Linked DNA regions of Homo sapiens: regions 1 and 2 are each linked to region 3. The links come from fine-mapping of genetic effects on gene expression. A gene starts in region 3. Each other region holds a variant in brackets. All regions are shown on one strand. Distances are from middle to middle.

Region 1 (4,246 bases), 23 kb after region 3:
AGCATAAGAATGCTACCGTAAATTTCCTCTATTTTTATTCTGAAACATCTTTATTTCTGAAGGATATTTTAGCTCAGTATGAAAAGAGGTTAGCAGTTTTTCACAGTGTACATATGAGCCCCCCGTCCCCCACTGCAATAGTTTTTCTTAAAGGGACCTGCCTCTCCCTTAGTTGAGAATATTTAAGTGAACTTGAGAATATTTAAGTGAACTGGCTTCAACCATATGTCAAGTAGTATGTTTGTGGGCTATCAATTTATTTCTAGGAACCCTATGATCATTTAGCCATTGCCACCTATATGGTTAAAATTCTCATTAACAGTGCATCCCTTGGACTCTTGTGCAGATTTTACCCAACCCCTCCCATGCCAAGATCCTATGATCTCTACTGAAATTGGGATCTTACTTTCATTATAGAAGTTCTGCATCATCTACAGTCTAGAGAGGGTGGGTACCACAGAGTTGTCCAAGGATGGTGGTAAACTCCTCACCAATGTATTTCTTAATACCCTGACGGGAATGTCTTTTGGCCTTTCTCTGGCTAAGGGAAAAAATGAACATAATAATTCATTGATAGTTACATCTCCCTCTAAAGCAGAGGTGTCCAATCTTTTGGCTTCCCTGGGCTACACCAGAAGAAGAATTTTCTTGAGCCACAATAACTGATAGCTATCATTAGTGTTCACGTATTTTATATGTGGCCCAAGACAATTCTTCCAATGTGGCCCAGGGATGCCAAAAGATTGGACACTGGATTCCATCCAGTATGACTTTTCAGATATCTAAGAAGATTTTGCTACACTTATTACAATGGTAGTTTTCCCACAGTGTAATTCTCTGATATAGGTTTGAAATATTGCAGAAATTCACTCTACATTCATTTATACAGTTGCTTTTTCTCCTACAAGAGTATTAAAATTTAAGTATTGCATTGTAATTGAAGGCATTCCCAAATCACTGTGTTTGTATCACTTTGGTTAATTGGAGATTGCTCCAAAGTAAACGTTCTCAATGTTGGCTGCACTCAACAAAAACTAGAGGGCAAAGATTTGATGTAGTCAGGGGTTGGCCAAGTTTTTCTGTAAAGGGCTAGATAGTAAATGTTTAACCTTTATGGCTGTATATTAAACTCTTCAGTTATAGAGGTAAGGAGCCATAGACTATGTAAATGAATACCTGGCCCATGGGCTGTAGCTTGATGACCTCTGATATAGTTCATGAGGTGCATCCCCACAGAGTAAACAGTAGGAAGGAAAGTGGATGTGGAGCAGATAATGGGAGAAATTGAGTATACTCTTAAATAAATAAATAATGAATTTTTCATATCCTAATTTTGCTGACAGGGTAACTTGATTTTTACCCTGATACAAACCATTCCTGCCTGAGAAAACCAAATCAGATACTAGATACCCATATGTAATAAGGCATGCTGCTTGAGGACACCAAATCAGATATTAAATACCCATATGTAATAAGGCATGCTGCTTGAGAAAATCAAATCAGATATTAGATACCCATACGTAGTAAGGCATGCTGCTTGTATTCGAGTCAGACTGTACACTATTGTAAGATAAATCAGCCTCTCTGAAACAACTCTTATGGAAACTTGAGAAGCTTCTAAATGTATGTACCAATATGGCATGCCAATGGCAGGTTTGAGGAAATACACTTCTGATAATGTATTTAGAACTCTAGTACATGTAAATAAGGTGTTTTTGGGCTAAAACTTTTATAAATTTCACCTCTTACAAAATTACTTATATTTATCTAATAACACCTCCTACAAATGTGCCCTCAATGCAGCCATTACATTAATGCTCACTAAATTCATTCCTATTCATATTCTCTACCTCTCTTTCTACAAAATAAAATTGCTTACCTTCCTGATTAAGGCAAACTAACCCTGATGGTGTGACCTTTGTCAGCTGGGCAGGTGGTAATGCCAGAACAGTTTTAAATAC[C/A]TGCTTACAAAAGAACGGTTTTCACCGTACATGGAACAAAACAGGAAGAATACCTTGGTAATTTTCTGTGATGTATCTTATATTTGTTTCACACTGAATAACAAATGTCTATAGTCAGATTCAAGGATAACTGTCAGCATTACCTTAAATCCAAACTCTGTCTGAAAGTTAAAATCATAAAACACCTAAAAACACTTTGTTATGTTTGTATGTTTCAACAAGAAAAACTACTGTTTATTTTTTATGTCAATATTGTAGTTACATTTTCAGAATCACATGCTGTGGGAAAAAATCAGCAAGCAGAAGGTTTATAATAAACCAAAAGATTTATTTATAACATTTTCTGAATTCACTTAAAAAACAAAAAGGAATCCCCCTTCCCTCAAAATAGAACCGTTTCCTACAGATTCCATCCAGTATGACTTTTCAGATATCTAAGGAGATTTTGCTACACTTATTACAATGGTAGTTTTCCCACAGTGTAATTCTCTGATATAGGTTTGAAATATTGCAGAAAGTCACTCTACATTCATTTATACAGTTGCTTTTTCTCCTACAAGAGTATTAAAATGTAAGTATTGCATTGTAAATGAAGGCATTCCCAAATCACTGTGTTTGTATCACTTTGCTTAAATATGAATTTTCTGATCTCCAAAGTGCATCATCTTTGTAAAGCTCATCCCTTGTCCATGCTTTCTGTCCTGGTTGACAGATGCGGAATGAGGGCTAATCTCTGGCTTTCTCCAATCTATTGGATATGTATTCTTTCCTGGTAGGAATTTACACACGTAAAGTAAGGGACTCCTACCAAATGAAGTCTTCTCAACATTACCAGATGGAAGAATCTTCTCAACAATATTGATTTCACCTTGTTATTGCAAAAAAATAAAAGAGTGGTTATTAATGGCTTTTCCACATATTCCTGGGTTTTTTTTTCTCCAGGGTGGTGAATAAAGTGTGGGCCATATTACTTCACAGTCATCACTTTCACATAAGGCTTCTTTCCAAGAGTTCTCTGAAGTAAGGCATTATACTTCTTTTTAAAAAATTCCATACATTCATAGTTTTTCTTTGCAGTGTAAATTCACTGGTGTTCAGTAAGGAATGAGTGGTAATTAAATGAATTTTCATATTCATAGGGGTTGTCAAGAGTGTGTGTCCTCTGATGTTTAGCAAGGTTTGAGCTCCAGCTGAAGGATTTGTTGCATACCTTACATACATAGGGTTTCTCTCCAGTATGAGTTCTCTGATGTAGAATGAGGGAAAAGCTCCGGCTGAAGGCTTTATCACATTCAGCACACGCATAGGGTTTCTCTCCAGTGTGACTCTTCGTATGTTGAATAAGGGATGCATGCCAAGTGAAAACTTTACCACATTCATCACATTCATAGAGCTTTTCTCCAGCATGAATTCTCTGATGTTTAATAAGGAATGAGTGACAACGGAAAGCTTTCCTACATTCATTACATTCATACGGGGTTTTGGTTGTATGGATGCTCTGATGTCGAGTAAGGTGTGAGAAACGGCGAAATGCCTTCCCACATTCAATGCATTCATAAGGTTTCTCTCCAGTATGTGTAATCTGGTGGCGAATGAGTTCTGAGCCACTGCTAAATGCTTTACCACATTTCCTACATATATATTGTTTCTTTCCTATGTGAATTCTTTGATGTCGAGTGAGGTTGGAGGCACGGCTAAAGGCCTTTCCACACTCAGTACATTCATAAGGTTTCTCCCCAGTGTGCGTTCTCTGGTGTTCAATAAGAAATGAAAGGTAACTGAATGTTTTATTACAGTCCTTACACTCATGGGGTTTCTTTCCAGTATGTATCATTTGGTGTTTCACAAGGTTTGAAATCTGGCTAAAGGTTTTGCCACATTCCTTACATGCATATGGTTTCTCTCCAGTATGAGTCCTCTGGTGTAACACCAGGGAAAAGCGTCGACCAAAAGTTTTTCCACATTCATGGCATCCATAGGGCCTCTCCACAGTACTGATATTCATATGTTGAGCCAGGGCTTCTTGATGAGAGACTGTTACTTTCCTAATACATCCCTGATTTTCTTGCAGCATCTCAGTATGATCCTTGCATTTCCAGCCTCCTTTAAAACTGGAATACACAGGGCCTTGACTTAGAATTCTTTCCATGATCAAATACTGGGATGAGTCATCATAAATGACATTTTTTGGTGAAAAGTCTTTGATCTCACCACTTGACTCTGAAACTGAAAGATACCAAAAAAAAAGTGAATGTTTCTTTTTCCTGTATTGAATAAAATAAGGC
Region 2 (4,246 bases), 23 kb before region 3:
CAAGGTGAGAGAACCAGCTGAAGGATTTTCCACATTCTTTACATTCATAGGGTTCCTCACCAGTATGGGTCTTTTGATGTCCAATGAGGTGAGAACTCCGGCTGAAAGACTTTCCACATTCTTTACACTCATAGGGTTTTTCTCCAGTATGAATAAGCTGATGCCTAGTAAGATTAGAGCGCCAGCTGAAGAATTTTCCACATTCCTTACATTCATAGGGTTTCTCTCTATGTATGCCCTTTGATATACCAAGAGATGAACCATGAGTAAGAGAGTTGTCATTATCAGGGCATTTGTAGGATTTATCACCTGTGTGAGTTCTTGCAAACTGAATAAGGTGAATGTTTTGACAGAAAGTTTGACCACATTCATTACTGTTACTTGCACAACTGTCCTGATGACCATTAAGAACTAAATCATGTTTTAAACTTTTAGTATGTGAGTCACGTTTATGGAAATACTCTCTCAGTACTAGCTGAGCAGGAAGAAGACAGTTTCCCCCATATTTACCACTTTCAGAGACTCTCTCCTGAGTAAGTACTTTCTTTTGGGTGAATGCCACTTGCCTCAAATGTCTCTCTGGGTTTTCCTGATACTTGTCTAACTGGTCTCTACATTTCCAGACTTCTTCTAATGACAAATACCAGAGATCATTCCTTGCCATTCCTTCCATTTTAATGTCACAGGATTGCTTATCTTTAAAAATGCTCCTGCTGGAAACTGATGATTTGATTTCAAATGCAGTCTCTGAATCTGAAAGAAATGAAAAATGTTTGTGTAACTAAACAGAGTATTAAGGTGAGAATGCTAGGATGTATGTGGAGACAAAGTATGCAAGATGTACACAGTTGCTTTCAAATATGGCTTTATAACTTTGATAGAGAATGAGAAAAGGAAGAATGGAGCGGTAAACAATAAATGCATTGTGGTATACAGTACTCACAAAGGGCAAAAGGAGTAAGGAGAAGCCACAGGACACAGCATGACACATGGGATCAGGGTATCAATGGTGAGGGTAGAAATAAGGGAAATTCCATAAAAAGGACTGCACTCTCATTTTCTAATCCAGATATTAACAGTCTAAGTTCCTCACCTGTCTACTTGTTGTCAGGACTTTCCCCTGACACACATTCTTCACATTACTATCAATTTAGTATTCTCTCTCTTTTTTTTTTTTTTGAGACAGTTTCGCTCTTGTTGTCCAGGCTGGAGTGCAATGACACAATCTTGGCTCAATGCAACCTCCGCCTCCCAGGTTCAAATGATTCTCCTGCCTCAGCCTCCCAAGTAGCTGGGATTACAGGCACCTGCCACCATGCCTGGTTAATTTTTAATATTTTTAGCAGAGACAGGGTTTCACTATGTTGGCCAGGCTGGTCTTGAACTCCTGACTTCAGGTGATCCACCCGCCTTAGCCTCCCAAAGTGCTGGGATTATAGGCGTGAGCCAGTGCGTCCGGCCCAATTTAGTATTCTTAAACCATGAATGCAGCCATACGTCAGGCAATGCTTTCTATCCAAATCACAGAAGCACTATAGAATAACACCCAGATGAGTGACACAACAGACCTCTCAGAGCAGCTACATGACAAGGTGGAAGAGTAACTGCACAAAAGTTACCAAGATGCAAGTTCTAAGTTTTATATTACGACTAGTGGTGAATTTAGACGAGTTGCTAAACTTTGAAGAATTCATTTTGCTTATCTGTAATCTAAGGATGACAGTATTTGTTATTTAAGATTATTATATTATATAAAGCATGAGCCTATTACAGTCTCTGGCACATTTATGGTCAAAGCAATAAGATTTACAATAATCATCATCATTCTTCTCATTTTTTTGATTTCTTCGCTCTGAAACATAAGGACTTAACAACTGATAGGACTACTACCACAAGATGTGAACTTAGAATCTGAAGCCTGACCCATACGCTCTTAGAATTTCTGCCATCTGCTACCTGTGTATATTACTGCAAATTATTTCTCTTGAATAAGAGCTTTATCTGTTTCTCAATGTCTTTCAGGTAAAACATATAATCCCAAACCTAAAAAATACACTGATGATACCACTTCATCTTACATAAGTGGGGTGACATTCCACTCTTACCTGGTATTATGGGTTAAACTGTATCCCCCCCGCCGACAAAAAGGTATGTTGAAGTTTTAATCCTCAGTATCTCAGAATATGACCATATTTGGAAATACAGTCTTTCCAGATGTAATTAGTTATGATGAGGTAGTACCAGAAATAGGATGGGCCCCTAATCCAGTATGAGGGTGGTCCTCCATAAAAAAGACACAGACACAGGGGAAGAGACCATGTGAACATGGAGACCAAGACTG[G/A]AATGATATATCCACAAGCCAAGGAACACCTGGGGCCAGCAGAGCCTGGAAGAGATAAGGAAAGACCCTCTCCTAGAAGCGTAGCAGAGCCCCACTGACATCTTCATTTTAGACTTAACAGCCTCCAGCTGTGACATGATACATTTTGGTTGTTTTGAGCCACCTAACTGCTGGTTCTTTGTTACCGCAGCCCCAGGAAACTAATACACCTGGTAAATGATCCCTGTGCCAGGCCTGGTCCCTAAATGACTTCCTTATACAATCCCACCCCGACCAGTCCTGTCCCTTACCACTTAGTTAGTTCCTAGTTTCTTCCCCATCCTGATGATTTTTAATAGGAAATACACCACCCTTTCCTCCCTTTCCCCAACCCAGAACATCAGAAAATCTTATGGAGAAGTTTTTCAACCTACAAATGCCAACTGGAAGATTCTATGAAGAATATCTATGATAAGGGGGGTGCTGAGCACTTATGGAGGACAATTCTGAGTGGAGAGTTTGGTCATAAGAATGAGGTGTTTTATTAATATCCTAAAATCTTCCACATATTATGTAATACAACCATGCCAGTAAGTTATTGTCGAAGTCTGTTGGACCCATCAATCAACTAATCATCTGATTTTTAAAAATCATCATTCATTATATTTTTTGATTTGATAATGAATTTAACAGCCTTGTAGATTCTGTAAAACTCCATGCCTTTAAGCCCATGAAGTCTGAGTATTTCTTTTGACAATAAATTCTCAATAAAAATATAAACTGCTGGGTCCAGTTAATAATTGTTATTTTTGGATACTTGTCAACAGACATTCAGGAAAGCTTACTAGATGAACAAAATAGAAAAGAAAGAAAGAAGGTAAGTAATAAAAAGAAAATATAACAATATTTCCTCCCATGGTCCCAAAGAAAGACTTGCTTTGAGATACCATTTTGATACAATCACCTACAAGGCAAATACTAAAAAGTAAAAAAGAGCTTATGATAATATTTCAAAGTAGAGATTTAAACTAAGTGGAAGTTCAGAAGAGGAAGAGGCCAATACTTAATGAGGAATCATAAAAGCCTTCATGGGAAAGAACTTGAGGCTAAATTACAGGACAAGTAAGACTCAGATTTAATTTACATCACACTCAAAGTCTGAGATGCAGGGAAATGCCTATAAATAAATTTTTAAAACATTAAATACAAAACTAGATAGAGGCTGGGCATGGTGGCTCACGCCTGTAATCCCAGCACTTTGGAAGGCCGAGGTGGGCGGATCACTTGAGGTCAGGAGTTCGAGACCAGCCTAGCCAACATGGTAAAACCCTATCTCTCCTAAAAATACAAAAATTAGCTGGGCGTGGTGGTGCATGCCTGTAATTCCTGGTTCTTTGGGAGGCTAAGGCGGAAGAATCGCTTAAACCTGGGAGGCGGAGGTTGCAGTGAGCCTAGATCGCGCCACTACACTCCAGCCTGGGAGACTGAGTGAAACTCCATCTCGAAAAGAAAAAAAGATCTAAAGTACAGTAGGAAAAACTGGTGTTTCTGTGAGCAGCCATTCTGGAAAGGAAGGAGAGTTGAGGCAACAGGAATTATGAGCTCTCTGCAGCAGTTTTCTACCTGGCAGAAAACAAACTCTCAGAAAAGAAGGTGATAAGAGTCCCACTCCAGAGCTTGCACAGAGAACTGAGTTGTGGGAAGGGGTCACATGAAAGAACAAAGAGAGGCAAAAATGCAAGAAGTGATTCTATGACAAACGAAAGCACAAGATGCTAGAGTGAGTGGTAACAATTAGGAGAGCGACACGTGCAAGCGCTGAAACCAAGCACGTCAACAGACAGAGAAACCTTTGCCTCTGAATGCAAATGGAATGTAAAGACTGGCAGTGGGGAAACAGGGGCCAGATAAACTCAGTCTTCCCAG
Region 3 (4,246 bases):
TATTGTGTGGAAAGAGGAAAAAATAATGCTCTTGGATGTTCATTACGAGTCAAAGAGGCACATACACAGACAAAGGTGGCCTATATCATATCTTGTCCCAACCTTGCTTCATAGCCAGAAGAATTAAAAGCCCTGGCTGACATGAGACATGCTAGAAAGAGTACTGCTGATGAAAGTAAAAGAGTCTCTTGTAGGCACAACAGAGATATTAACAATAAGAAATTTCTTTTTCCTTAAAATACTTTTTTTTTGAGACGGAGTTTCGCTCTTGTTGCTCTTGTTAATTTAAGATGTGTATCTCAAATCTCTGCCCTTGTGACTGGCATATGTTAATTAGCTGGGCATGGTGGCTGGCGCCTGTAATCCCAGCTACTAGGGAGGTTGAGGCAGGAGAATTGCTTGAACCCAGGAGGCAGAGGTTGCAGTGAGCCAAGATCGAGCCATTGCACTCCAGCATGGGCAACAAGAACAAAACTCTATCTCAAAAAAAAAAAAAAAAATTCTCAGATTTTCTTGACAATTGAATATAATCTATAAACAGAACTGTTTTTATTCTTACTCATCCTTTATTCTTCTAGTAAGAATTGCCTAGTAAGGTTTTGAAGTTTTTCTCATATAGTTCACATATATTTCTAGCTAAAATTATTTTCTTCCTATTGTGAAGACTTTTTAAAAATAAAAGTATGTGCTAACTTGTTGAGGACGGCAATCAATCTATTAGCTTATATATTTCCTTTTCAGTCACTTTACTACAAATTATTGATAGTAATTGAATCTCTTCTCATTTTGGGGACTTAATTAGTTAATTAATTAACAAGGATAATTTTGTAATCTCTTTTCCAGAAGGTAAGCCTCATATCTACTTAAATATTGTCCTAAGTAGAATTTCCAGACAGTGCTTATATAAAATACTGATAAGCAGAAATTCTCATTTAATTTATGATGTGTATCTCAAATCTCTGCCCTTGTGACTAGCATATACTAAGAGCTAAAGAAATGCATGCTGAGAGAAGTAATCAAAAAACAAATGTAACTTTCAAAAAGAGGCAGGAGCGTGTGCAACTTACCATCCAAGAGGCTTTGGAAGATGGGGGACAATTTTAGTAAAACAGAAGAGATTAGTTATGTCACAAGAGAAAAGTTAGTGTGGAGGTAATTTTCAAAAGGGTAGGGAGGATTTGTGCTATCCAGTTCTCGGAGACCTAACTGCAGTCATTTCTAACCTAATAACACTTGTTGGCTGGCATTCTGGGTGACATCCTGCCTTCCCTTTTACTTTTTTTTTTTTAATTAACAGTATCTTTCTGCAATTAATGTATAGCTGGAATTGAAATTGTTCACCTTCTGCATACACTTTGGGTGGGATCTACGTACGAAATCTTGATGTTAACCTTATCTTTGACACTCATATTATGTGTTAGATGGCGTATATATATCTAGTGTCAAGGGAAAATAAAAATATAGTAATTAAACTTATGATCTGTCTCTGAAAATAAAAAAAATAGATTAACCACACAAACACGCCTTCAGTTAATCTATCTGATTAAAAAACAAAACAAAGATGAGGAAGCTAAGAGCTAGAGATGCAGGATTTGTTTTTAAAAGACCACACACGAATCGGCGTCACTATTTCAACAAATACTAGAAAGGCCATATGCAAAATTTTAAACATCTATCCCAGCTGGGGGGAAAAATGGAAGTTAGACTAGAAGAAACCTTATTTTGTATTACTGAAAATATCTGGTTCAAACTTACCACCACCGCCGCCCACTCTGCGTCAATCTCCAGGTGCAGCCGTTATTCTCCACAGAACAAGAACGTCCGCCGTGAACGCCGGGGCCGCGCGAGGGACAGAAAGTGACTGAGGCAAGGGGTGACGATCACCGTTAAATTTTTTCATTGACGAAATTACCGTCTACCTAGAAATACGAAGCTAATACACTGCTACATTACTAAAGGGCTCAACACGCGCCTGATGACGATGCAAACACAAAATTCAGCACTTTCGTATATACCTGCAATAAGCAACTAGAAGGTTCGATGGGAGAAAGCGATCCCGTCACAAAGGCAGCAGCAACAGCAAAACAGAGAACGCGACTCCATTCACCAGCGGAGCGCGAAGAGCGGCGTCAGAGGTGAGTCTGAGGCCGGCTCGGCACGGCGGCGCCACCTCCCCGTGGCCTGACGTCACGCACGCGCACGCGCCCCGCCCCCATTGGTCCTACGCCCGCCCCTGCTGCGAACGCACGCACACGCACCCACAACACACACCGTTACGCACGCGCCCCAGCCTGGCGTTCAGGCCACGCTCCGCCCCCAGCCCGTCAGCCGCGCGCCCCGGGACCCTAGAGCCGGCGATTCGTCGCCGGCGCCGCAGCCGCCACTCTGTGCCGGACCCTGCGGGCCTTCGGCCCAGAGCGCGTCCGTGACGCACAGACCAGGCCCCTCTGCGGGGCGGCGCAGGAGCTCCTGGGAAACGTAGTTCGGCCTCGCGTCCCCCTCGGGCGGGACCGCGGACGCCTGGAGGCAGGCACTGAGGACGGGTGAGCATGCGGGCCTGTGGCTCGTTCACCCGGGACAAGTCCCTCGTGGGATCAGCCTGGCCCGCTGAGTTCTCCTGCGTGCAGGGATCGCCTCACGGGAGTCTGAGCAGCAGGGAGCCTGCCCGGGAGGCGGCGGTGGGAGAGGCCCTTGAGGGAGGAGGGGCTACTTACCGGGTGCGAGTGGAGCGCGGGGAGCGAGTGGGGACCAGGGGCGCGCGGGGCGGAGGGGTCCCGGGCTGGCTGCGGGTGCCACGCAGGGAGCGCTGGGGGGCCGGGGATGCGCGTTTGCCTCCTTCTCTAAGCAACACGGGAGGGCTAAAGGGTGCACGCCTCTGTCCAGCAGCCTCTCTTGAATCTCTAAACCTAGTAATGAGTTGAATCACAGCCATCGTTTTTTTCACCTATTGCCTTATACTGTGGTTGAATGCGATATGGTTTTATTTCTTTAATACTCTGGTGTATTCAATTGGCTGTTTCCCTTTGACTTCACCTATGCTCACAAGATTGTGTTTTAATCTTTTTGTGTACTATCCTTGCCCGTTATACTAACAAGATTTTACAAGCTTCATGAATAATTTGGACAGCACAGTCTCTCTTCTATTCTGTAAAACAGGTCACCACCCCTCACCGCCCCCCGCCCGCCTCCAAAAGTTTGGTGCTATTTGGTCTTAAAATATTTAGTACGCATTTAACTTCTGACTCAATTTTTTTTTTTTTTTTTTTTGAGACAGAGTTTCGCTCTTTGTTGCCCAGGCTGGAGTGCAATGGCGCCATCTTGGCTCACAGCAACCTCCGCCTCCCGGGTTCAAGTGATTCTTCTGCCTCAGTCTTGTGAGTTGCCGGGATTACAGACATGAGCCACCACGCCCAGCTAATTCTGTATTTTTAGTGGAGATGGGGTTTCTCCATGTTGGTCAGGCTGGTCTGGAACTCCCGACCTCAGGTGATCAGCCTGCCTCGGCCTCCCAAAGCGCTGAGATTACAAGCGTGAGCCACCGCACCCGGCCCTGACTCAATTTTTTAAAAAGTCTCATTGATTAGGTTTTTTAGTTCGTATTCTGTTTTAGATACCTTTCCTAGATAATTGTTTTTAATCTAATTTTTCAAATTTATTGGCATAAAATTGCCCATGCTATTTTATCACTGTAAGTAATTTCTATGGTGATTTTTAAAATCACCACTTTTTAATATTTTACTGCTGTAATTGTTATTTTTTTCTTTTTTGAACCTAATTATCTAGGCCTTTTTTTCTTGATTACTCCTATAAGGTATATGTGTACATAGTCTTTTCAAAAATGTAGATTTGGTTTTGGTTTTTTTGTTGTTTTGTTTTGGTCTTTTTTGGGGAGGGGGGTCCTATTACAGTAAGTTTTGCTCTTAATTTTTAAATTTTTCTTTTACTTTGTCTCTGTTTTTCTACTTTTTTTTTTTTTTCGAGACAGAGTTTCACTCTGTCTCCAGGCTGGAGTGCAGTGGCGTGATCTCGGCTCACTGTAGCCTCTACCACCCGGATTCAAGCGATTCTCCTGCCTCAGGCCCCACCACGCCCGGCTAATCCAGCTAATTTTTGTTTTTGTTTGTTTGTTTGTTTTTGAGACAGAGTCTCTCTCTCTCGCCCAGGCGGGAATGCAATGGCAGGATCTCTGCTCACTGCAACTTCCACATCCCGGGTTCAAGCCATTCTCCTGCCTCAGCCTCTGGAA

What was found. PIP is the estimated chance that this variant, and not a neighbour inherited with it, causes the effect. A credible set is the group of variants that fine-mapping cannot tell apart.
Region 1: its variant is the best candidate, but not a certain one, in a credible set for the expression of ZNF891 in sun-exposed skin (GTEx, PIP 0.90).
Region 2: its variant is the best candidate, but not a certain one, in a credible set for the expression of ZNF891 in whole blood (TOPMed, PIP 0.61).

What each region holds. Positions count from the first base shown.
Region 1 is chr12:133,105,451-133,109,696 of GRCh38, reverse strand. It overlaps ZNF140 (zinc finger protein 140), which reads right to left. Exons shown (of 5, transcript NM_003440.4): 5 at 2,269-4,187. The coding sequence ends at 3,046. ZNF891 (zinc finger protein 891) reads left to right here. Exons shown (of 2, transcript NM_001277291.2): 2 at 1-4,246. Among named protein-coding and RNA genes, the nearest start is that of ZNF891, 23 kb to the left of the region's middle. The variant C/A (reference allele first, on the strand shown) is at 1,962.
Region 2 is chr12:133,152,010-133,156,255 of GRCh38, reverse strand. ZNF10 (zinc finger protein 10) reads right to left here. Exons shown (of 5, transcript NM_015394.5): 5 at 1-753. Among named protein-coding and RNA genes, the nearest start is that of ZNF10, 24 kb to the right of the region's middle. RefSeq lists an enhancer at 1-1,047. The variant G/A (reference allele first, on the strand shown) is at 2,342.
Region 3 is chr12:133,128,524-133,132,769 of GRCh38, reverse strand. It overlaps ZNF891 (zinc finger protein 891), which reads left to right and starts at 2,496. Exons shown (of 2, transcript NM_001277291.2): 1 at 2,496-2,543. It overlaps ZNF10 (zinc finger protein 10), which reads right to left and starts at 2,143. Exons shown (of 5, transcript NM_015394.5): 1 at 2,016-2,143. RefSeq lists enhancers at 509-678, 1,761-2,040 and silencers at 2,091-2,330, 2,701-2,880.